Linked DNA regions of Homo sapiens. The protein of the gene in region 6 interacts with the protein of the main gene of each other region in a biochemical or structural test. Each region holds a gene or a part of one and is shown on either strand. Other genes may lie near its edges. The genes, in order: PKN2, SYNPO, NTRK2, MET, TLK1, NCK2 and DOCK1.

Region 1 (3,500 bases), on a different chromosome or scaffold from region 6:
GGCTGAGTATCCCTTATCCAAAATGCTTAGAATGAGAAATGTTTTGAATTTCAGATTTATTTGGATTTTGGAATATTTGCATATATAAATAATGACATATCTTGAGGCCAAGACCCAAGTCTAAACACAAAATTTATATATGTTTCATATATACCTTATACATAGCCTGAAGGTAAATTTATATAATATTTTTAATAATTTTGTGCATGAAACTAATCTTAAGTACTTGCGGAATTCTCTATGGCATCATGTTGGTGCCCAAAAAGTTTCAGATTTTGAAGCATTTTAGATTTTGGATTTTTGGATTAGGGATGTTCAACCTGTACTCTCCCTTCCCTCCCCTTCCCTTCCCTTCCCTTCCCTTCCCTCCCCTCTTCTCCCCTCCCCTCCCGTCCCCTCCTCTCTCTCTCTCTATATATAATATATATTGAGATATATATATGTTTTTTGTTTGTTTGTTTTTTGAGACAGAGTTTTGCTCTTGTCACCCAGGCTGGAGTGCAATGACACAATCTCAGCTCACTGCAGCCTCCGTCTCCCAAGTTCAAGCAGTTCTCCTGCCTCAACCTCCCGAGTAGCTGAGATTACAGGCGGGAGCCACCATGCCCGGCTAATTTTTGTTTTTGTTTTTTTTGTAGAGACGGGTTTCATCATGTTGGCCAGGCTGGTCTTGAACTCCTGACCTCAGGTGATCCACCCGCCTCGGCCTCCCAAAGTGCCGTGATTACAAGCATGAGCCACTGCACACGGCCCTATCTCTCTGTATTATATGACACATTTGGTCAGCTTCTGATTATCCAAGGGTTTGCTTTTTGGTATTTTTGAAACTTATTTTTTTTAGAATGTTGATTTTATAATGAAGTAAATAAACTTATTTAAGATTGAATTGGAAAGATAATGGAACTTCACAATCAGTTCATTTTGTTATAATTTCTTAGCTCCCTTGTAATGACAAGAAGAAAAAGTAACTGAAAAGAAACATGGATATCTTATTTCTATTTACCCATTAATTAGACAGTATAGTTGCTATTGCAGTTTTTGCTATACCAGTCCTTACTGTTTTCTTGAAATGTCTTAGATATGTCTGAATTTGTTCACCATGCACAAATGTGCAACTTTAATTTTGCCTCCCAAAGATAGCTTTGATTTTTTTTTTATGCTAGATTTGTTTTCTTTGCTAACAAATGTTTACATTTTATCTTTTCCAGGAATGGGATATGGAGATAGAACAAGCACATTTTGTGGCACTCCTGAATTTCTTGCCCCAGAAGTATTAACAGAAACTTCTTATACAAGGGCTGTAGATTGGTGGGGCCTTGGCGTGCTTATATATGAAATGCTTGTTGGTGAGGTAAGCAGTGTGAAATAGGTAAGAGAACAGAGGAAGGATGATTGAAATAATAAAGCATGTCATTTATAAAACCACCTAATACTGTCTTCAGTATGAGTGGAATTTAAGTTTTATAAATATTTATAGTATACTAGTAGTCAGCTATCTTTCTGTAATACCTTCAATAAAGATTTTTATGTGGTTTGTGGAATGCACTATCAGTGCTTTGAAAATAGTTCCTTGTATTTCAGTATTGTACTTTTATTATGTTTTCTGATTTTAAGACATAGTCATTTTATAGGGAATGGAATAACAGAAAGACTAATAAAAGGAATGTACTCTGTACCTGTAAAGAAAAGCCCACTATAGATTGGTCAGAAATAAATGTTACCTTCGACTTCCTCCAGACTTCCGTCTGAGCAACACACTCTGCATCCTTGCTTCACCGGGAAACTACTGAAGTTCCTGGGGAAGCAAAGTAGAATTTCGTAAGAACAAAATGGATGGAGAGAGGAGAAAACCTATGGTAGCTGTGAAGGCCCTGATGCCATGTATGTCAAATTGATATCATCCGATGGCCATGAATTTATTGTAAAAACAGAACGTACATTAACATCAGCACGATAAAAGCCATGTTGAGTGGCCCAGGTCAATTTGCTGAGAATGAAACCAATGAGGTCAATTTGAGAGAGATACCTTCACATGTGCTATCAAAAGTATTCGCTACACCAACAGCTCCACCGAGATTCCTGAATTCCCAGTTGCACCTGAAGTTGCTATAGAACTGCTGATGGCTGTGAACTTCCTAGATTGTTAAATAAAATATAATTTTAAAAAAATGAAAGAAGTGTTACCTTAAAAAATGGTAGAGTTGAAAAAATTCGCATTTTTTCCTACTGTTTTCTGTAGATTAACTTAAATTTCTGAGGATAATTGAGTTGTACATAGAAATTATTACTATTAGGAAACAGTGAGTTATGTTAAGGCAATAATAGGAGACTAATAATTTATTATGTTATAAATTGTTAGAAATGTTGAATTGGGATGAAATTGGGAAAGAGTAAATCTTTTAATAAGTAATTGAAGATTACTTGAAGGGACTTGAACTGGAGATGCAAGAAAAATTATTTTAAGGGATTGGTTCATTATTCTGCAGTTTCCCCATGCCAGCAACCTCCCTTGTACACTTGTAAGTTTGAAGAAGTTAGTGCTGAATGAACAAATTATCAAATTGAATATCAGAAATTTCTAAAGTTTTGTTCTATGCTTGTCATTTATTGGCACTTACCCCAAACAAATGGTTTTAGTTTCGCCGGATGGATAACCCCTTTTGGTATGTCAATTTGAAGTGGATTCCTTGGAAAAGGAGGAGAAGTATGGCTAATTAAAATTTATCATGTGCTAAGCACTGTACTGTATGCCTTAAATATTAGTTCATTTAATTTTGCAACAGCCTTTAATAAGCTCAGTACTGATCTTCTGCCCATTTTCGGAGGTGTAAATAGAGACACAAAGAGATTAATGACTTGCTTAAAGTCACACAGCTCTCATATGGTGGAGCTGGAATTTTAACCTTGTCACTCTGGCTCCAGAGCATATCTAAAGCATTATGCTTTGCTGCTCCAGGACAGGATCTTCAATTCATCCAGCCTTGTTTCTGTTCTTAAGACTAGTGGTCCAGATCTGAATTTTTCACCTCTATTTAGAAAAGCTGTTGTGCAGTGTTTAGGTTGGAAAGATTTATTTTAGCTCCAGTCCACAGTGGCTTTTACTTTCTGAGAGTGCCAGAAGTTCTCATAAAATAGTTAATCTGCTGTAAGCTCTGGCATACTTGAACTCCTCCCCACCCCCTTCCTTTATTTTAACAGTAACATTTTGGAGGGTTTTTTTGGTTTTGTTTCATGTAGTATTCAAGTAAGTATGAGATTTATGAGATTCAATTATGTGCTTGCTTAAAATTTACTCTCCATATTAGAGATGACATGTGCAAAATATGAGTTTATTACAAAATACTGTAGAATTAATCCAGTTGAATCTACTCCCTCCTATTATAAAGCCACTGGAGGGTTTGGCAGAAAACAAGGAAGCTCCTGTTTCATGTTTTTTAAAAGAGCTAATTGATTGAGCTCTTAATTACCTAGAAGATAAAAGACAGTGGATCTGGCTATTT
Region 2 (3,500 bases), on a different chromosome or scaffold from region 6:
TCAGACTCTGCATCCCTACAGCTCACAAAGGCCAGAGGATGCCCCTCTACCGCATCAGGGCTGCCAGACAGTTCTCTCTCCATGACCCTCCTCCCCGCTCAGACATGGAGTCCGACCCCTGTTGTAGTAGGGGAGGGGCGGCTTCAGCTCAGAGAGGGGAGGCGACTCGCCCAAGGTCACAAAGCCAGCTGGTGGCCGCATCTGACCTTGAACCATGGACTCCCCATTCTCCTCACTCAGCTCTGTGCCATTTCCTGCCACATCTGCTCTCCATCTGGCCCTCAAGGAGGGGAACTTGACCGGCAGTGGGACCCCCGTGGGGTTCGTTACTTGAAGCAGAAGGAAGGCTTCCACACCTGAGCCTCGATCCCGGCGTTCCGGGTAGAGAAGGAGGGCCTGGGGGCCTGCTTGGCTCGGGGAGACCACGCCCTGGAGGGAGACACGGGGGAGATGTCACCGCCGTAAGGAGGGCTCACGGCAGTGGGCTGCAGGCTGTCCTGGCCGGGGGAGGTGTAGAGGCCCGGTGAGGAGCGCGAGGGCCGAGGCAGGGCAGGAGATGGAGGGAGAGCCCCCTTGGGCAGGTTGGGCACCAGGTCCAAGGAGCTGGGCTTGGCGGGCGAGGCAGCTCTTGGTGAGACCTTGGCAGGCTCCTTGATAGGTGAGAGGACAAAGAGCGAGGGGCGCAGCTGGTATGGCGGCTGCTTGGTGGGCTCTGGGCGCAGGACCCCGTTCTCAGGCAGGTAGCCATGGTAGAGGGAGGCAGGCGGGGTCCGGGCTGGGCTTCGGGATGCCACTCGGAAGGCCCCGGGGGCGTTAGTGGGGTATTTCCAGGAGGAAGGCAGGGACATGGTAGGTGATGGGCAGCGGGCCAGCTCTGGCGTGTGGCTTGAAGACTCGATGACATATTTCTCCATCCGTGACTGGCGGCGGGCGTAGAGCTCAGCTCCCTTCCCAGAGGCCTCGGAGAGGTTCTGGTTGGGTTTGGGCTTCGGCTTGGCCTGGATGCGGGGTGACTTGAGGCAGGAGGCCCACTCTGGTACCACCTCCTCCGCCGCCGCGGGGCTGGCCCTGTCACGAGGTGCTGGCTCCTGCTGGAAGTTGGAGGCCTCGGCCCCCAGTGCGAAGGGCTCCTCCTCCACGCCTACCTCCCCCTGGTCCCTCTGCCGCCGCTTCTCATCCGCTGTCTGTACCAGATCCAGCAAGTCTGGATTCGGGGTCACCTTGGGCTTCTCCACGAAAGTAAACATGGATTTGCGGCTGCCCCGGCGGGCCATCGACTCCTCCAGAATGCCCGTCTTGCTGGCAGGAACCGCCTGGCCCTTCAGATGAGAAGACTTGGGGTCGGAGCTGGGATACAGGACAGAATATGAGGGAGGAGACCTCACCCAGGAAGCCAGAGGGGCTGTGGACAAGGTCTCAGTGTAGGTGGGGGGTGCAGTGAAGTTCCCCAAGGGGCGTCTCTCTGAGGCCGGGCTTCGCTGCCCCATCATCCTCCTTTCCACCATGGGGCTGCGGGACATTATGTGTCTCTGTGGCCGGGGGCTCCTGTCTGGCAAACTGGGGGGCTGGGGAGCCGGGGCCTTCTCCCCAAAATGTCGTCTCTCTAGCATGGGGCTCCTCTCCATCTGGCTGGTGCCCCCTGGCGCCTGGATCCCAAAAGGCCTGGCCGTCCTGTTGACCACTGATGGGGGCTTGGCCAGTGTGAAGTGGACCTCACTGTAGACCTTGGTGGGCGTGGTGGCAGCTGCTCGCCCAGACATCTCTTGATCTGCTGACACCACTAGGGTGTTGGGCTGGATGTCAATGAGCAGGGAGCTGGACATGAAATCTGAGGCTGGGGGCCTGGAGCTGGGGATGAGCGTAGCTTCTCTGGAGAAGGTGCTGGTGGTGGTAGCTGGAGTTGATACCTTGTCAATTAGGAGTGTGCTGCATCTCACCTCCTCAGCCGGTGCCTGGGGTTGCCCATCAGCACACAGGGTGCTGGGTTTGGAAGCAGGCCCTGTGCCATTAGATGGGAGTTGGGCCTCTGAGGAATTCTGTTGGATGCTAGAAAGTGGCAGGCTCTGTGGGACAACAGTTGCCGGTGGGTTCTGATTGACATCGGTGGCTGGCGGATTGTGGCTGCTGTTAGAAGTTGGTGTGGTGAGCGTGGCACTGGGCGAGGCAAGGTTTTGGTTGACATCTGCAGCTGGGCTGTGGACCTCAGCTGGAGGTGGGGCCGGTGAGGACTGCTGGGCCTCTCGGTTTTGGGACAGGTGCAGCCCATTGGCTGTCAGCAGTGCTGCATTCTCCTTTAGATAAACCACCAGTGGTACCTCTTCCTCCTCACTGGCCACCTTCTCCAGGTGCCGCAGCAAGCTAGCCTCCTCTGAGTACCCCTCCATGCTGTGGCCAGGGACCCCTCTGTCGGGGCTCTGGGGACTGGGGTGCCGTGGAGGGCCTGGCTCCGGCAGCGAGGTGGAACTCAGGCTGAGCCCCGGTGCATGGCCTGGGAGGCTTGAAGGGAGCACTCTGAGGGACTCCTGGCTGGGCTTCTGTCCCCTCTGGCCGTGGCTCTCCAAGGTGAACTCGTTCACCCTCTGCCGGCGCCTGTTGAAGAGCTGGACGCCACGGGAATTGGAGCTGGGAGGGGTGGTCAGCTGGGCTGCAATCTGCTGGCTCCGCGCCTTGGCTTCTTTCAGATCCTTCTCCGTGAGGCTAGTGCTCCGGCCCAACGCTACAGGGAGGGACAAAAGCCCAGTTAGCAAACAGGAATGCAGTGACACAGGGGTGCACGGACAAACAGGCAGACAGAGATGGTCGCCTCGGCCCTTCCTACACAGGATCTCTTCTGGAATTTAATCGTCACTCACTGTTTCTTAGAATTAGCTCACTTCGTAATCAGCCCTGACCTACCTTTCATGGCCCAACTCAAATGCCACCACGTCTACGCCACCCTGATTATCCTCTCAGGATTAACTGGTCCCTGATTTGGAATCCCCCTGACAGTTGCTGATATGGCACTTTACCAAACTGAGTACGAACACCTCACCCTAGAAGTCCCACCGTGTCCCCAGTTCCTCCCCACTGCCTTCTCCTCTCTCACTAGGCTCTGCCACACTGGCTTGCTTTCTCTTCCTTGAAAATGCCAAGTATGTTCCTGCCCCAGGGCCTTTGGACTTGCTGCTCGCTCTCCTTGGAATAATCTTTTCCCAGGTAGCAGTCCATGCTGGTTCCTATCTTGCCACTCAAGTCTCAGCTGGAATGTCCCCTCTCTGGAGGCACCTTTCCTTCTCCTATCCCATCTGTTTTGTTTTCTCCATAGCATTCACCAAGTTGAAATGATCTTTATGTTTCCCTGTCTATTATCTGTCTCCTCACCTACAGCATAGCTCCAAGGGGCAATGACCTTGCCTGACTTTTTTTTTTTTTTTTTGAGAAGGAGTTTTTGCTCTTGTCGCCCAGGCTAGAGCGCAGCGGCGCAATCTCGGCTCACTGCAACCTCCGCCTCCCAGGTTCAA
Region 3 (3,500 bases), on a different chromosome or scaffold from region 6:
TGAAGTGGTGGGACTTGAGCTTGCCTTCATAAAGGAGACCTTTGGGAAGTAGGGAGAAAGGGAAGAAGATCAAACTTTCTAAGAGGCATGAGTAACTTGGCCCTGGGTAGGAAGCCACCTAAGCTTGCTGGCTGAACACAGAGTGTGTGTGGAGACTGGAGAAAGCAGAAAAGCAGAGTGGTCCATCCTAATGAATACAGGATGTCCAATGGGGAAAGGTTTGGTATGTGGCTTTAGGTAAACTACTTAAACTGACTGACTTTTAGGGGCATTACTTGCACTATCCAGGCAAGTCCATGTCTGCTGTAGAGCATAACTGTTGGGTTCAAGTGAGATAATTGAATAGAAATTCTTCGTAAATGTTGAAGACTGAGTGTTGATGGATGATTACGGTGGCACTGAGGTGGTGGGTGATTCCGGAACCACGGCGTTTTTGTGCTGGAAGTAACCAAGGGCTGCCCTAACTCTTCACATTTTACCAATAAAGACAGAAGCCAGACCTGAGGGTACCTGCTCAAGCTGGTTAATAGCAGCAGCACAAGAACTAGAACTCCAGTCTCTTGGGTTGAGGAAAATAAAAATTGCAAGTCCAAGTCAACTCTCCAGATAACTGGGTTTCTCATCTTGCACCAGGTCAACCTGGTGAGTTTAGTGAAGACCATGAGACCCCATTCAACTTAATTACTGGAGAGCCCCTGAGGCCCCACAGCATATCAGGCTGAGAGCAGGAATTCTGACTCTCAGTGTCATTCCTGGGATCACATTCCATCTCACAAATATTTAAGCAAGGGCATGAGGGCAAGTTGCCAAGTAGTACGATACAAAACAAATGTCTCATTGTGTTTGTTGCTGCACAGTGTGTTGTTTGTGTGGTCCAAAAACCATCAAGTGACTATAACTAGAATGTGACAGTAATTTGTAACAACAGTGACTTTTTTGGGGGGAGGGTCTACTTTTGTGACATGCTTCAAAATTCTGAGAAAGGGTTGCAAAAGAAATGTTCAGAAATGTACTAAATGGGCTTAGAAAACTTGTGAACCCTGTCTGAACTTTTATTAGATTGTCCCACCACTCACCCATTTGACATCTGAACAAGGAAAGCATTATTTATAACAGCATGCGTGAAATCCCAGAAGGGATTCTTGAAAGAATTAGAGTGAAAAATCTGCCCCAAAGAGACAGCAAGCAGAAAATAAATGATCAGATGAGAAAACATGTAAATCAAAACGTGAATCTTTTGTTCTCTCTCTCTTCTTTAAAGGAAACAGAAGCTTTTTCTTGGCTATTAGCAATTCAGGATAGAGAACCAGTATCAGGTTTTCTATCTTGCATTGCTAATGACCAAAAAAAGTGGGTGCTGCTATCAAAGGAGCCACTTGGTTAAGGCCAAATGAAGAGTTCAGGAGAGTGACATATGATGATTCTTCTTAATGTCTCCAGAATGGCTGCTTCTGGAGTAAGTAAGAGAGTGAAGGTTCCAGAGAAGAAAGCCACACCTCAAAAGCATTAATACTTTAAGACTTAGAAAACACTTTCACAAATGCCTGCTTGAGTAAATACCTCCCAACAACATTAGGAGGTATACATTATTACTTACATATAATTATTAAACCTTGGCCACAGAGAGATTTGGCAACTAGTCCAGGTTACCCCAGTAGGAAACAGGTAAGTGAGCGATTGGAAACCAGCTATTGTCATCCACTGCATTGCAGCTGTGAATATCCAGGTAGATATGGAAATCCTGAGATCTTGCTAGATTAACACACCTCAAAGTGTATTTTTAGCTGTCTTACCTGAGACATATATAAATGGTTATCTCTCCCACAAACATACATTCAAATAGTTTAATTTACCAAAGTTAAGTTTGTTCTTTCCTGCCAAACTCCTCACATACTTTAATAAGCCTCAGTCCCTGATGGATCTCCTTGAATTGAAGAGGGTTGCAATTTACAGTACATTTGACATATTTGATCTAGGAACTTCTGGGGTTGTTAAAATAACACAACTCAGACAGCATAACAAGAAGACCAGGTCCCAGTCTTTATTTTAAGATTCCTACTTCTCTAAGCCCACTTTGACCACTGGGGTTCTATTTTATCTAACGAGAAAGAACAGCAACACCAAAATGCACAGTGGAGCTGGTTGCACCATAGCACTATGCTGACATGAACAATGATGAAATGAGCTCTTCTTTATAGGGTAGGAAGAAGGTTAAAATGAGAGAGGTAAGGTTAAAAATAAGATGTATAGCAGAAGGGATTATTTTTCCCTTTGATTTCATCTTACCCATTTTTTTTTGCATGTTAGGTAAGCAAAACAATGCCATGTTTGTATCTTAAGAGGTTCCCATAAAATGCTTGCTGTGTGGATGAAAATGGTCTGTTAAAATGTGTAGACCTCTGTCCTATCTGCACCACCCAGGCAAGGTCACATAATTGCCAGGAGCAATTTCATCATCTGTAGGCTAGAGGTGCCACCAAGAGTCCTGAGTTCTTTATGGTTTGCTCACACAATTAAATGACACCAGACGTGTATAGATGTTTTCTAAACCATATGGTACATTCCAATTATGGCTTCAGAGAATGGCAAGGAGACTAGAGATGCTTTATTCTAGGGGTTAACAATCTTTGAAAATGTGTGTGCCAAAGTGCCCAGCCTTTTCTGGCACATAAACAGAAGGGTCATTTGCCCACCTCTGCAAGGTGGCAGCAGCATCCCTGCATGGCCCAAAGCAGTCCTCTCCTTGGCATTGCCATGTGGGCTGCCCAGACCTGGTGAGATCATTCTACCCTCATACCGCAAGTCCTCCAAAGCATCTGGAAACAACAGGTCCTCTGTGTATGTCAGCAGATTCCCTCTCCCAAAGTCCTGGGCACCTGGGGGTCACAGAGTTATAAACAGGGCAGATATTTGCCAAACCAGAAATGTGCTGAAATAGCTGCACCCATATTTACTACCCACATCCTTTCTGGTTGGTCAGTGTCTGTGCCACACTGATTGCAGTTTGAGTATCGACCCTGAGGGTGACTGTTGCCACCACCTTCAGACATCAAGTAAGACCATAAGAGAAGTCTCTGTCCATTGAACACTGATGACCTGTCACTGCTGAAGGAAGAGTGAGGAAATCTAAGGCCAATGGAAGCCAACTTAGCCTTTATGAGCTTTTTGTTTATTAAAAACTGAATAGTAGAGATGGGTCACCTGAGCCAGAAGTTTTTGTCCCTATTTGTCAAATTTGGATGCATCATACAGAGAAGAATGAAATAAAATATCCTCCCCCTTTTGTACTCTTGTGCTTTCTTTGGTGCTAAGAACATCACTGGGAATCACCAAGCATGTTAGACATCTCTGACATTTCAGCCTCTTGGGTTCTGGGGTAGGGGAACATTTTCCAGACACTATTAGTTTATTTTCTTCCTTTAATAAATACTAACTGGATATTGAGATTAGAATTGGGCAGAAACTCTATGCACCATTACTCTATAAACTCAGGACCCAGA
Region 4 (3,500 bases), on a different chromosome or scaffold from region 6:
TGAAGAGAGAGAAAGGTGACATGGCCTAGGTGAAGAGAAGAGGCCAGAAATGGGAGTTTCTCAACCATTTATGCGACAAGTCTTCAGGTGTTGTCTGAGTAGATTTGCAAGAGTAGCACTAGTTGGGATCACTTCATCCTTGGAGTCTTCAAATGTAGAGTCTCCAAAGGCTTTTTCTACAGAAATCAGTAAACAGCTCAGCATGGATCCTCTCTTTTAAATTCACTTTCTAAACCTCAGAAATGTAGTGAGGCAGCTGAATCACGTGTTTGAGACTTTTTTAGATGAGTTAAAATTTATATTCAGCTTATATTTACTGGCACTGCAATATATGGGCTGTATCTCACTGAACCATCCCCACGGTCCTGGGAGGGAGCAGTATCATTCCTATAATATAAAAGAGGTACCTGAAGTTCAGAGAGATGAAGTGTGGCTTCACAGAGGTAATCCAGAGAGTAAGAGCTGAACAAGCCTTCAGCTCAGCTCTGATCATCTTCTGATCCAAGACCCGTGCTAGTTCTACTGTATTCTACATGTACCCTTCTACAAGCTTTGAATTCCATAATCATCAGAGAATCCAGAAATTATTCATTATCACATAATAACAACACTCAAATATTTAAAGTTTTATGGTTGAATCTTTATGATTGAACCCATTCTATCAGGTGGTTATTTTATATCTAATAGAATTCATTTCAGGGTTACACAAAGGTCCGAATCTATCCATTTTACTGAGACCAAAACACTAATGAAGGTAATATTTGTTAGCTGAATGGCAAAACAAATTTTTTCTAGAAATCTCCCTTGTAAAATCTCCAAAACTCTTAATCATTGCATATAAATCAGGACCTGTAAAAGTAAAGCATAATTCATTCTCTCCTTTAAAAAGTTATTTAATAAATCAAATTGTATTTAAATTTTCTCAGAACTATATGATTATTCATTCAGAAATAATTCTATGGAAAGCCATCACAATTTCATTATCATTTAAGTAATTTAAATAAGCATGTACAAGTATAACCACAGAAATGTACCTGTTGACATACTTTAATGAAGAGATTGGCCTATTTGTAGTTAGCCCATTGTTTCATATGCATCTGAAGTGGACCAAAGATTATCCCCAAATATTAATATTATCCAAACTTAGATTATTATGCACTATTCAACTGGTGAGGTCTTTATGGATAAGGTCTGATATTTCCTGTTTGTCTGTATAAGTGCTATAGTACCATTAATGTAAAGTTTAGTATAAGCAGGGTGCAGTGGCTTACGCCTGTGATCCCAGCACTTTGGCAGACCAAGGCAGGAGGATCACCTGAGCCCAGGAATTCAAGACCAGCCTGGGCAACGTAGTGAGACTCCATCTCTACCAAAAAAAAAAAAAAATTTTTTTTTAATTAACCAGATGCCGTGGCATGCACCTCTAGTTCCAACTCCTGAGTCCAGAGGATCCCTTGAGCCCAGGAGTTCAAGGCTGCAGTGAGCTATGACTATGCCACTGCCCTCCAGCCTGGGTGACAGAGCAAGATCCTGTCTCTTTTTACATAAAAATAAAAGTTAAGTTTATCATAGTATAGAAATAGGATTATATAATTTTTGGCCTTAATGCTTATCTTGAAACTCTGCTTGCTATTCAAAGCAGTCAGCTCACCATTTAGAGTTAATGTCACTTCCTATAAAACAACCTAACCAGAAAATTCCTTGGATTTGTCATGTATTAAACTTTGGGTTTTTTTTCCAGATTGAAATGCACAGTTGGTCCTGCCATGAATAAGCATTTCAATATGTCCATAATTATTTCAAATGGCCACGGGACAACACAATACAGTACATTCTCCTATGTGGTAAGGAAGATTCTATCCTATCATGTTTGATTTTTACTTAATCTATTTAAATTATAAGATGAACAAGTTACTTTGTTTTGTTTTTATCTCCCCTCCAGGATCCTGTAATAACAAGTATTTCGCCGAAATACGGTCCTATGGCTGGTGGCACTTTACTTACTTTAACTGGAAATTACCTAAACAGTGGGAATTCTAGACACATTTCAATTGGTGGAAAAACATGTACTTTAAAAAGGTGTTGTAAATTTATTTTTTGTTGCATCTGTCAATTTGAATTAATATCTGTACCTTAAAAATTAAGCAGATTGTTTTGTGTGTGTGTGTGGAGAAGAAAAATCAAGATGTTTATTTGTTTACTCTCCTACTGACAAAACTTCCTCCTTCCAAAATTCATCTACTCCTTTTGCTGATTTTTCTTCCTTTCTCTTGTTTTTTAGCAATCCTACTTTTCAGTTTTGTCTTCCCATCCACCCTCTTTATTGTTATAGCTTAGGATCTTAGCTATACTATGAGCTGTGAGAGTCTGGTCATTGATAATAATTTAAAATAAACATTTTCATCAAGATTTGTAATTAGACTAAGTCACTCTGGGGAAGGAAGAAATGGGGAAAATTGGGTCTGGAAGACAGTTATGTTTCTGCTTCTTAGAGTTGGAAGAGCTCAGTTTAATCAAGTACCAAAAGTACTTTAAAGGTTTTTTTTTCAAATCTCAAATGTTTTCCAGTCAAGGATAGCTTGTCCACAACAAAGGTAAGTTTGAGATCCAGTCAGATTAAACAGCCTACACTAGAAAAGGCTTCCACTCAGGAAATTCCCACTTAGGAACCATTGAGTTATATCCTTTTGATTTGTGGATATAATTCTAAAATATGTGTATCTCTAATAGCTAAAATTCACTTCCTTAATTTTTTTTGTTCAGTGTGTCAAACAGTATTCTTGAATGTTATACCCCAGCCCAAACCATTTCAACTGAGTTTGCTGTTAAATTGAAAATTGACTTAGCCAACCGAGAGACAAGCATCTTCAGTTACCGTGAAGATCCCATTGTCTATGAAATTCATCCAACCAAATCTTTTATTAGGTAAGTAGAAGCTTCTGATGGGTATAAGAAAACAATGAATACAAGGATGATTTTGCTGTAGAATAGTCAAGAGGAATTGCAGTTTTATCTCTGGCTTTGATGCTGTTATGTTGCTTTTGAAGGCTTCTTTCCAATTCAGGAGAGAAAACTATATTCAGGTTCTGAGTGTAGTTTGACTTATCAATGCTAGTTCATTCCAAGAAGTATCTTATCCTGTTCTATTACATTTAAACAGAGTATAGCAAAATAGTTTAATGTGGCATTGTAGTATACATGCACTTACATTATGTACATATCAATTCTATACTAACCTTAGTGCCCAGAAGTGGAATTACCTTTTTTCTTCCATTCTCTAGATATGTTTTTGTCCTGCCTGCTTTACACACAGCTTTTCTTTATGCCAGACTCTCTTTGAATTGATATCTCATTGGACCCAGTTCAATCTGCCTTGTTTCCGTTAATTCTATCAGTCTAGCAACAATAGTTAAGTTCGGTTTTCTTTGTATTTTTTTCAGAGGTGAAATATTTATTTTGTGTAATTCGGTGAATAAAATACAAATGCATTTCTTAAGCTT
Region 5 (3,500 bases), about 65 Mb from region 6:
AAACTTCTCTTTTGCCTCAGATATAATAACTGATTTATCAGTTAAACTGAACATGTGGCTTTAGCGTTTCTGAGGTAAACTCTATTTATTATTTATTTATTTTAATTTCAACTTTTATTTTAGTTTCAGGGAATATATATGCAGGTTGTTACAGGGGTATATTGCTTGATACTGAGGTTCGGGGTACAATTGAACCCACCACTCAGGTAGTGAGCATAGTACCCAGTAGTTTTTCAATCCTTGCCCCTGTCTCTGCCTCCTTCATCTTTGTAGCCCCCAGTTTCTATCATTCTCATCTTTATGTCCATGTGTCTCCAATGTTTAGCTCCCACTTATACATGAGAACATGCGGTGTTTGGTTTTCTGTTACTTTTCAGATCAAACTTTTAAACAGAGGAATTATAGTTACCATATTTTCTTGAGTTCAGATGGTGGTAGAAAAGGATTTATTGGCTGTTTATGTGTTAAGGAGTGCTAAATATGCTACTCCGTTTTTGGTGGAAAATTTTTTTAAACCTGAAAATGGGGAGTAATGCCAGCATGAACATCAGCTTTTCCAGAGTATCCAGTTATTTGAAATAGAGGCAGAACTTACTTTCACATGGTATCACACCAACATTGCTGTTCAAACACTGCCTCCTAGGACTTGCCACAGAATGGCCTTCTCTCTCAGCAGATTTATTCAACTTTTCTTCAACATATCTGTGCTAGTTATACCACAGTGAAACAAAGGATAATGTCCTTGTGATATTAGAGAGTTTGGGTTTCAATTCTGCAGATAATGGGACTTGTTAAAGGTTTACATATAGTGTACGTGATCGGAATGATATCTACAGTGATAGTTGTAGAATAATAACTGATGGTAATGTGAAAATATTATTAGAGGATGAATGTTATTGGTAGTTAAGATGGAGGGGTATCCAGATGAAAGGTGATTAAAGCATGAACTAACATATCAACAGTAAAGTGGAAAGCAGGAGAAGATAATTTTTTAGTGTTTATGAGCAAGAGGCTCTGCTACTAAACCCAGACCGGCAATTGTCCTGCAATGAATAAAAGAGACAGTTATATAATTAATATGAATGTTCTGAAATATAAATTCTACTAGTAGTTCCAATTTCTCCTCTTAACTGTCAGAAAAGAGGCCACAGGTGCAGTGGCTCACGCCTGTAATCCCAGCACTTTGGGAGGCCGAGTTGGGAGGATCACCTGAGGTTGAGAGTTTGATACCAACCTGGCCAGCAGGGTGAAACCCTGTCTCTACTGAAAATACAAAAATTAGCCAGGCATGGTGGTGGGCGCCTGTAATCCCAGCTACTCGGGAGGCTGAGGCACGAGAATTGCTTGAACCTGGGAGGTGGAGGCTGCAGTGAGCCGAGATCATGCCACTGCACTCCAGCCTGGGCGACAGAGTGAGAGTCTGTCTCAAAAAATAATGTCAAAAAAGAAAATAATTACTTGTATGTCCTGACTTTCACTAATAAGCATTTATTGAGGACCTACTGTGTGTATATCAAGCCGTTTATAATTGGTGATATAATCCAGAGTGGTTAGAAGATGAGAAGAGAAATAAATAAAAGTAATAATATTAATCTCTAAACTGTATAGTCATCCCTGAGTAATCAGCTATTAATATCTATTCCAGTAATTCTTTACTTTCCATTAATATTTTAATCATTAGGATTATTATTGCTTATTTGCATTTATACCATCTTGATTGTGCCCTAAAATAGCCTTAAGATTTACTTATTAAAAATTGAAATTTATTCCTGCTTCTAAATGAAAACCGGATTAAAGTCTTGTTCTCACTTTGCTATTCTTGAGATTTTTCTCTACCCTTTCAATCTTCTACCTAGATTCTTCTTGATTTTTTTCACTCCTATCATATTCTGCTACTTTATCACTAAAACCATAGGGAAGGGGATGTGTGTAAGGTCAATTCTGCATTAGCAAAGTAGGAGCCCTTTAGTTGATGTCAGTGGTTGGGGAGAGGAGGGCATGAAATATTTGACTTGCTCTAAGTATTGTAACCATGTAGGATTTGAAAATTTTTTATTGGCATAGTGAGGTGACCTGAAAGAGAACATGGTTACTGTTAGAATAAGCTTAAGGTGTTGTATGATAAGTTGGTTTTAAAAAGCTTCACTGTTAACTACTTTATGCTCTGCTCAAACTGCTAAAATATCTAATCTACATTTTAATAATAGACATGGTATCTATTCGTTTTTAGAATTAGGGAGCTATTTGCAAAATTGTTTCAGTTTCTTGAATGGGAAGCATTGATTTTATTTTTGTTACTTTCCCATTTTTCAGAGCCATGCTAATTTTTCTTGCTATTTTCTTGTCTTTTTCCCCTTAAATTATCAAAAAAATTTTTCTCATAAATTTCTTATATTAAGGTTAATTTGTCTCATTTCAAAACACCAACTTCCCATTACCAATTTTTTTTAACAAAAGTAGATTTAGAAAATAACTCTCTTCACATTAAATTCATATTTGCCTTTTGTAAATTTGTTTGCAAATACTGTGGTGAGATGCATGTGTAACATATACCCCATACTTTAATAGTTTGGGGTATTGTTTTATCTCATTTCATTCAAGAAACATTTACTGAGCAAAGGTAAGTGATGATCACTACACTAGGTACTAGGGATACAACAGTATAAATACTGTATAAATAGACACCATCTGTGTTCTTAGGGAGTGATGTCATCTAACCGGACACTTTCTGATAAAGTATCTATAGGAATAATATTTATTAGAAAGAGTGAGGTGGGGAGATAGAAGATCCCATGAAATTATATATGGCAACACATCTTTCCCTAATCTAGGGGTTTAGAGAATACCTCACTTAAAAAAATTCTTTCAAATGAGACCTGAAGGATAAGTACAAATTGGTTCACAAGAGTGGAACCAAAAGGTTACGAATGTATATTTTATGGTTTTTCATGTTTTTTATGCATTTTTTCCAAGTTTAGCCTTGAAAAGTAATGGAAGGTTAATATGGTTTTATTTGTTTATTTTTACACAGGCAACAAGAATGGGTGAATCAGCAAAGGGAAGATATTGAAAGGCAAAGGAAACTTCTAGCCAAACGCAAACCTCCCACAGCTAATAATTCTCAGGCACCCTCTACCAATTCTGAACCAAAACAAAGGAAAAACAAAGCAGTCAATGGAGCAGAGAATGATCCCTTTGTTAGACCAAATTTACCACAACTGTAAGCCTCCATTTAAAATTTTTCTTTTTTAAAATTGTTGCCAGTGAGCGTGAATGTTACTAATGGATGTTATTTATAATTAATACTTAGATAGCAAAAATGATTAAGACCAGGAAGGAAGGCAGTATTGAAAATTTAGCTCTAAATTAATAGCCCCAAATATCTGAATTCTACCGTTTTAAGCAGAGATTTAACAATTCTCTTTTAAAACAGAGACCTAGGTAGCTAAGAGGTTACCAGAATTCACCCTTCTGTGTCTGAATCAGTTAGGAATCAATTA
Region 6 (3,500 bases):
ATGCAGAGGCTTTCCTCCTTCCCAAAAGGTTTGTTATCTTTAAATTTGGAAGTTAATTCATGAAAGAAACGTGTATTATTTATAAAAAAATTTTTTTAGCATCTAGTAGAAAATATGTTATTTAAAAATGGTATTTATGCTTCCATGGAGTCAATGTGCATAGGTCCCCTGTAATCCTAAAGTCATCCCTATACAATAATGAGAACTTCTCTGTCAGGGAGGAAGGGGATTTTAGTCCTGAGTGTTTTCATCATTCATTTCTCCCTAGTTTGGAGAAATGTCTAGTTAGTTTAAGGACTGAATATTGAATTTTTCTGCTTAAAGAATATTGGTTCATCTTCTACCTAAGAAGTAGAGAGTTGCTAAAATAGTTGATTATTTATTTTATTTATTCAGCCACACTTTTGCTATTTATTACTTCCAAAATTGACTTTACTGGATATATAATACACGCATCTATTTATTGTTGTTTTGATAAACTTTTCATTTTGGAAAAATGTTATGTTCACTTTTGATGTTGCACATTTTATAGATTTTAACAAATGTATAATGACAGGTGTCCGCCATTATAGTATTGAGCAGAGTAGTTTCACAGCCTTAAAAATCCTGTGCTTCACCCTTGCATCCCTCCCTTCCCTCTTGCCCCAGGCAAGCACTTATTTTCTTACTGTCTCCATAGATTTGTCTTTTCCAGTATGTCATACCGTTTTAAAGAAAAAACTTATTCATGACATTTGTTGAAGAACAGTAAGGCAGATTTTATTCAGAGGGACTACTACAGTAGGGTTTTGCAGTCAAGAAAGAGATTGGGTTTGACTCCTAATATTAAGACAACAAGGAAGAGTGGGCATTTATAGGCAAGGAGCAAAATAAGGGAGTTGGTGGGTGGAAAATTACTAAGAGGAAACATCAGGGGTGGAGCGTGGGGATTCTGGCTAAACTGACCGAACAGGATTCTTCTGAAGGCAGGACAGGGTGATCAGCTGTCACCTGGGGGATGGTAGAGGATGAGGAACCTGATCAGATGTTGAGAGTGGAGGATTCCAGCTAGAGCACCTTAGCAGGAGAGTCTTGCAAAAATTGGGCAATGCAGAGATGGACACGGAAGTGCAAAAGTTGAGGCCTTAAAGGGAAGAAGATTCAAAGGAATTTGGCTGAAGTTTGGTTAAGGATAAACTGTCAGAATCACACAGTGTGTAGCCTTTTCAGATTGGCTTCTTTCACCTAGCAATATGCGTTTAAGGTTCCGCTATGTCTTTTCATGGCTTGATAGCTCATTTCTTTTTGGTACTGAATAATATTTCATTGTCTGGATATACCACAGTTTATGTATCTATAAACTGTGTCCTACTAAAGGACATTTTGCTTGCTTCCAAATTTGAGCAATTATGAATAAAGCTGCTACAGACGTCTCTGCACAGGTTTTTGTGTGAATGAAAGTTTTGGGGAATAATTTTATATTTATAAAAAAGTTCCCAGTATAGTACAGAACTTTCCCTTATACCCTTTACCTGGTTTCTCATTGTGTTAACATCTTATGTGAATGCAGTAACATCTTACTGGTGTGTTGTCCAAACTAAGAGATTGACAATTATTTATTGTTATTATTATTCTTAGACTTTATTTTGATTTCACCAGTATTTCCATTAATTTTCTTTTTCTGTTTCATGATCCAATCCAGGATACCACCTTGTTATTAGTACAATGTTAATTTTAATTTATAGGAGTAGTTTGGTTATGTTGACTTATTAAATATGTTTATAAGACACAGCATATCCTGAGAAAATGAGTGTCAACCTAACAGTTATCAGGAGGCAGTGTTACTTAATGAAATGGACTCATTTAATTATAATGTTATTTAGAATTTTTTTCAAGTTTGTTTTTGTTAGAGGGTCAGATTTCCCCATGTACAGCAAACAGTAACATAAGATTTGTTTTATAAGGTTGCTGTTTCTAAACCAAATACTAAAGCTTGTTGAAAGAAGGTCATTTTAAAGTTGAGCATTTCAAGACCCAGGAGAAAACTGGTTGCAGAGTTGTAATAAAAGCTGTCAGTGCCTAATTTTTCAAGTTGGTGCAAAGGATGAAGTGTCCGGGTAGTTCTCTAATGAGCATCTCCAAATGTTTTGCTGGCAGAAGGACTCCATGAAAGATGACAGAAGAAGTTATTGTGATAGCCAAGTGGGACTACACCGCCCAGCAGGACCAGGAGCTGGACATCAAGAAGAACGAGCGGCTGTGGTTGCTGGACGACTCCAAGACGTGGTGGCGGGTGAGGAACGCGGCCAACAGGACGGGCTATGTACCGTCCAACTACGTGGAGCGGAAGAACAGCCTGAAGAAGGGCTCCCTCGTGAAGAACCTGAAGGACACACTAGGTGAGTGTTTCACCCTCGAGAGAGGAAGCCTTGTGCATTTCAAGGGACACTGTTCGTCTTTCTAGTTAGTTTGCTGTTTCAAAAAAAAAAAAGTCTGTTTTAAAAGTTAATATCTTCCTAGTTGTCTTTTTTAATAATCTAAGAATTAAGAGATGAAGATGGAGAAAGAGGATGTTTTTCATTTCCTGGAGATTCTGGAGTTTGGGGTCCTGTGTATGGAGACACTTTGTGTGCTTGGGACCCCTGCACAGGTATCTCCTTGTATCAAAACGTTAGAGGAGCCTGACTTGGAATTCTCACCTCTAAGTCTACCCAGCTCTGCCAGTGTCGTGACATGAAGTTCTTTCTCTCTTATACAATCCTGTCCATTTGGCCTACGTGCCTAGAGCAGGGGACAGCCAAAGCACTTTTTCCCTCTCTGAAATGGATGCTACATCACACCACAGTCCTGGGTGCCGTTAGCTAAGAGGGCAGCTTTGTGACATCAGAGGCCGCTCCATGGTGGGGGCCTAGTTCAGCCATACTGTTGTCCCCATGTGCCTCTTTTTTTTTTTTTTTTTTTTGAGACGGAGTCTCACACTCTTGCCCAGGCTGGAGTGCAGTGGCACGATCTTGCCTCACTGCAAGCTCCACCTCCTGGGTTCACACCATTCTCCTGCCTCAGCCTCCCGAGTAGCTGGGACTACAGGCACCCACCACCACATCCGGCTAATTTTTTGTATTTTTAGTAGAGATGGGGTTTCACTGTGTTAGCCAGGATGATCTCGATCTCTTGACCTTGTGATCCGCCCACCTTGGCCTCCCAAAGTGCTGGGATTACAGGCGTGAGCCACCGTGCCCGGCTCCCCATGTGCCTCTTGTTTTCCCAGGTGTTGTCAGGTTATGGGCAGTGCCCTCCTGGAGTTACACAAAGTTAACAGTATCCAGTCTTGCCTTTACATGCACACGGAACTGACTTACAGTATTTACTGCCTCAGATTACCTGAGAAAATAATTGCGAGGACTTTTTTGAAGAATGACTCATCTGAGCTGACATTTAAAACGTTGTTACCTTCTTATGAGTATAATGTTGTCTGTATCCAAGACTGCAGGTTATCACTTAAGGGTTTGCTAGTGAAATGA
Region 7 (2,794 bases), on a different chromosome or scaffold from region 6:
AAAAATGACCTAATGCTTAACACAGAGAGGAGAATAAATGTGGAAAAGTAAAGCTGATATAAAGATGTCCTATGAGTGTATGACCTTATATTAAGGAAGGTAAAACAACAATTAAGTCTTTTTAAGGTTGGTTAGAACCGTTAAAAGAGACATCTATTTTGAGGTCTGATGAAACTGTTTGTTTACATGTGAAAGCCACACTCACTGATAGGCCAATGAGGAGCAGGTAAGGACCACACTAACACAGCCTGATACCAACACAGCGCTGCAAATGACCTCTATGCCAAGTATGAGCATGTCAAAAGTTTATCACCATTAAGCAAAATGATTAATGGTGATAAACTCAGTAAGCTCAGATTACTGACAGGAAGAGCCATTTGGAAAGAAATGACAGCTTAGTGGCAACAACTAAAGACAGAGTTGCCTACAAGCCTGAGGCTGATCAATGAGAGTGACAGGAGGATATTGATCACACCCCCATCATGGCAGATGGATGATCATTATCCTAGAACAGCTCTCAGGGCCTGTGCAAAGGGAGGCACCCCAGGAAATGCAACCGCTTCTGCCTAATGATGACATACTAACCACCAGCGTGTCACCTGAGCATGCACTCAGGCTGCAAGTAAATTAAACAAGAAACAAAGACCAAAGACACCTGGGTCATTAATCTAATTGAATTCACACGCCCTTTATCAATTGAGAGAGAGCTAATCCATGTTATCCCTTACTTAATCAACTGTATGTGGCATCAGTAACCCACAATGGTGTATCCAAGAAATTGAGACAATAAAATGTTACCCCGGAGTTGATTTGTAACAAGAAGAGGAATTGGCTGTAATTCTAAGTTTAGAATTTTCAGTTTACTAGTGTAGGGAGACTAGGGGGAACATTCCTGCCTTTGCAATAAAATAGAGAGAAGAGAATGTGACCAATTAACGAAGCTGTTAGGGAAACAATACTCCAAGCAACCCAATATTCTTGTTAGACCCCCCCGAATCTCCTTTTACTCTCACAAGTAGTTAGAAATGGCCGGGGAAGGTCCGGCTTCCATTTCTGTGGTGCAACAAACCATTCCAGCCTGCCAGAAAGCCCTCTTCACAGGGGAACCTGGTGCCTCCTCCAGGACCGGTTCCCCATCGAGGCGTCTCTAGGGAGAGGGAGCCTGTTTAAATGGCACTTGGGTCTCAGAAGAGCAATCTGCCTCTTTGATATTAAAGATGACTGCTTGTTTAGTTTTCTGATACAAAGGGAATGATGAAATACGTATGCTGTACACAAACACCCTCTCTCTTCCACTCCTCTCATAAGGGATGTAATGACCTTGTGGAACACTCCGTCAACGAGTCTCCATTAAAAAAAAAGAAAAAGAAATGGCACGTGGGATTTATATTGTTTATTAAAGAAAAATAAAAAAAAAAACCATGTCTCACCATTATGAAAAAAACAGAGCCACCCAACAATCTCATGTTTTCAATGTTCTACAGGAGTTTTGCGGCCATATAATTACTTCACTAAGGCTGGATAGCAAAAAAAATACGGCCAGCTGTCCACATATGAAGAGGGATATTTTACCCTTCAGACACCACTGATTTAATTGTCAAAGGCTGTGAATAACATGGCCTGGGGAGGCCTGAGCCTAGAAGCAGAAGTTCCCGCCGTGGCTGAGTCAATCGCTCGCCCGCCTCCATCCCACTCATGCTGCCCTCCACACATGCCTGGGCCCGACATGAGGATGGGGCTGGGACCCGCAGGGATGAGTGACGCCTGACAGCATCCTTGAGAACCAGGAGAGGAACGGGGTGGATCTCAAAAGAATGTTTCTAGAACTGTCAACTGGTAACTGAGGTGCTTGTTTAAATGGCTTTTCATGACTTTGACTAATATTTGTACGGGCAGGCAGGCCCAGGGGCTGTTTGGCACAAGGCACTTTGGGTGGCATGAATGACTAAAACAGCTGCTGGGGGGTACCAGCTTCAGGGACTCACGCTGAAGAGGGGTTCCAGCAGGTTGCTTAGGCTTACAAAGGCCAGTGCTGCTGGAGGAAGCCAGGTCAGCACCCCCGAACTAGCACTGGGGAGGGTGCCCAGGGGTGGGGGCACAGTGAGGATGACTGTGCCCAGGAGCCAAACCTGGCTGTCCTCTGCAGTCTCCGTAAGGTGAGTGCCTGTCACCACCCAGGAGCTCCCAGCACCAGGTGAGGCTGCCTGGAGGGATGTTTGGAGACAAGCTTCTCCAGGGCCAAGCAGGTGTACAACAGGTGCCTGCCATACAGGGCGATATTGGCCAACCTCTTTAAAAAGTCAGACCTCTTGATAGAAAAGCTACTTCTCAAAAATCAAAATGTCATTAGAATTGCATCTCCAGTGGAATGATCTCCATGGTGATGATAACCGATGACAACCTTGGAATGTCTATCCTCTTCCTCGTTCTGAGGCATGATATCAAAATGTGCTTTTTGATGCAGTTATTGATAATGACGCAGAGCCACAGATCTTACCCACTGGAGTCCTTACTGCTTCGATATCTTTTTGCAAAATCAAACCCGGGCCCATCATACATGGTTTTCCTCATGTGCTCACTAGCCCGAAGTAAACCTGCTAGTATCTGGAATGAGGGACTCGTCCTACTTTGTGGAGGCGAAGCAATGAAAGCCTGTGTTTCAGATTGCCGACTTACCCTCTGGTGTGGAGGGGGAGGTGGAGGTGTTGGCGAGCCCAGCAAGTCCTGGTTTTCCATCAAATTCCCGTAATCTGCCACGCTGCCTTTGAGAGGCAGAGGGGGTGGGACATCGGCC

The links.
Region 1: the proteins of NCK2 (region 6) and PKN2 interact in a biophysical measurement, tested with the Homo sapiens proteins (one study listed by IntAct).
Region 2: the proteins of NCK2 (region 6) and SYNPO form a complex in vitro, tested with the Homo sapiens proteins (one study listed by BioGRID).
Region 3: the proteins of NCK2 (region 6) and NTRK2 form a complex in vitro, tested with the Homo sapiens proteins (one study listed by BioGRID).
Region 4: the proteins of NCK2 (region 6) and MET form a complex in vitro, tested with the Homo sapiens proteins (one large-scale study listed by BioGRID and IntAct).
Region 5: the proteins of NCK2 (region 6) and TLK1 form a complex in vitro, tested with the Homo sapiens proteins (one large-scale study listed by BioGRID).
Region 7: the proteins of NCK2 (region 6) and DOCK1 form a complex in vitro, tested with the Homo sapiens proteins (one study listed by BioGRID and IntAct).

Annotation. Positions count from the first base shown.
Region 1 is NC_000001.11:88,827,273-88,830,772, forward strand, and holds part of PKN2 (serine/threonine-protein kinase N2), read left to right. Parts: intron 1-1,208; coding exon 1,209-1,351; intron 1,352-3,500. UniProt on the Homo sapiens protein: PKC-related serine/threonine-protein kinase and Rho/Rac effector protein that participates in specific signal transduction responses in the cell.
Region 2 is NC_000005.10:150,647,160-150,650,659, reverse strand, and holds part of SYNPO (synaptopodin), read right to left. Parts: intron 2,717-3,500; coding exon of another isoform or gene 2,385-2,716; coding exon 357-2,384; coding exon of another isoform or gene 327-356; exon of another isoform or gene 1-326. UniProt on the Homo sapiens protein: Actin-associated protein that may play a role in modulating actin-based shape and motility of dendritic spines and renal podocyte foot processes.
Region 3 is NC_000009.12:85,015,729-85,019,228, forward strand, and holds part of NTRK2 (BDNF/NT-3 growth factors receptor isoform a precursor), read left to right. Parts: intron 1-3,500. UniProt on the Homo sapiens protein: Receptor tyrosine kinase involved in the development and the maturation of the central and the peripheral nervous systems through regulation of neuron survival, proliferation, migration, differentiation, and synapse formation and plasticity.
Region 4 is NC_000007.14:116,755,696-116,759,195, forward strand, and holds part of MET (hepatocyte growth factor receptor isoform b preproprotein), read left to right. Parts: intron 1-1,741; coding exon 1,742-1,844; intron 1,845-1,942; coding exon 1,943-2,079; intron 2,080-2,763; coding exon 2,764-2,925; intron 2,926-3,500. UniProt on the Homo sapiens protein: Receptor tyrosine kinase that transduces signals from the extracellular matrix into the cytoplasm by binding to hepatocyte growth factor/HGF ligand. Regulates many physiological processes including proliferation, scattering, morphogenesis and survival.
Region 5 is NC_000002.12:171,045,894-171,049,393, reverse strand, and holds part of TLK1 (serine/threonine-protein kinase tousled-like 1), read left to right. Parts: intron 1-3,031; coding exon 3,032-3,220; intron 3,221-3,500. UniProt on the Homo sapiens protein: Rapidly and transiently inhibited by phosphorylation following the generation of DNA double-stranded breaks during S-phase. This is cell cycle checkpoint and ATM-pathway dependent and appears to regulate processes involved in chromatin assembly.
Region 6 is NC_000002.12:105,852,912-105,856,411, forward strand, and holds part of NCK2 (cytoplasmic protein NCK2), read left to right. Parts: intron 1-2,136; 5' UTR 2,137-2,152; coding exon 2,153-2,378; intron 2,379-3,500. UniProt on the Homo sapiens protein: Adapter protein which associates with tyrosine-phosphorylated growth factor receptors or their cellular substrates. Maintains low levels of EIF2S1 phosphorylation by promoting its dephosphorylation by PP1.
Region 7 is NC_000010.11:127,447,428-127,450,221, reverse strand, and holds part of DOCK1 (dedicator of cytokinesis protein 1), read right to left. Parts: coding exon 2,677-2,794; intron 1-2,676. UniProt on the Homo sapiens protein: Involved in cytoskeletal rearrangements required for phagocytosis of apoptotic cells and cell motility. Along with DOCK1, mediates CRK/CRKL regulation of epithelial and endothelial cell spreading and migration on type IV collagen.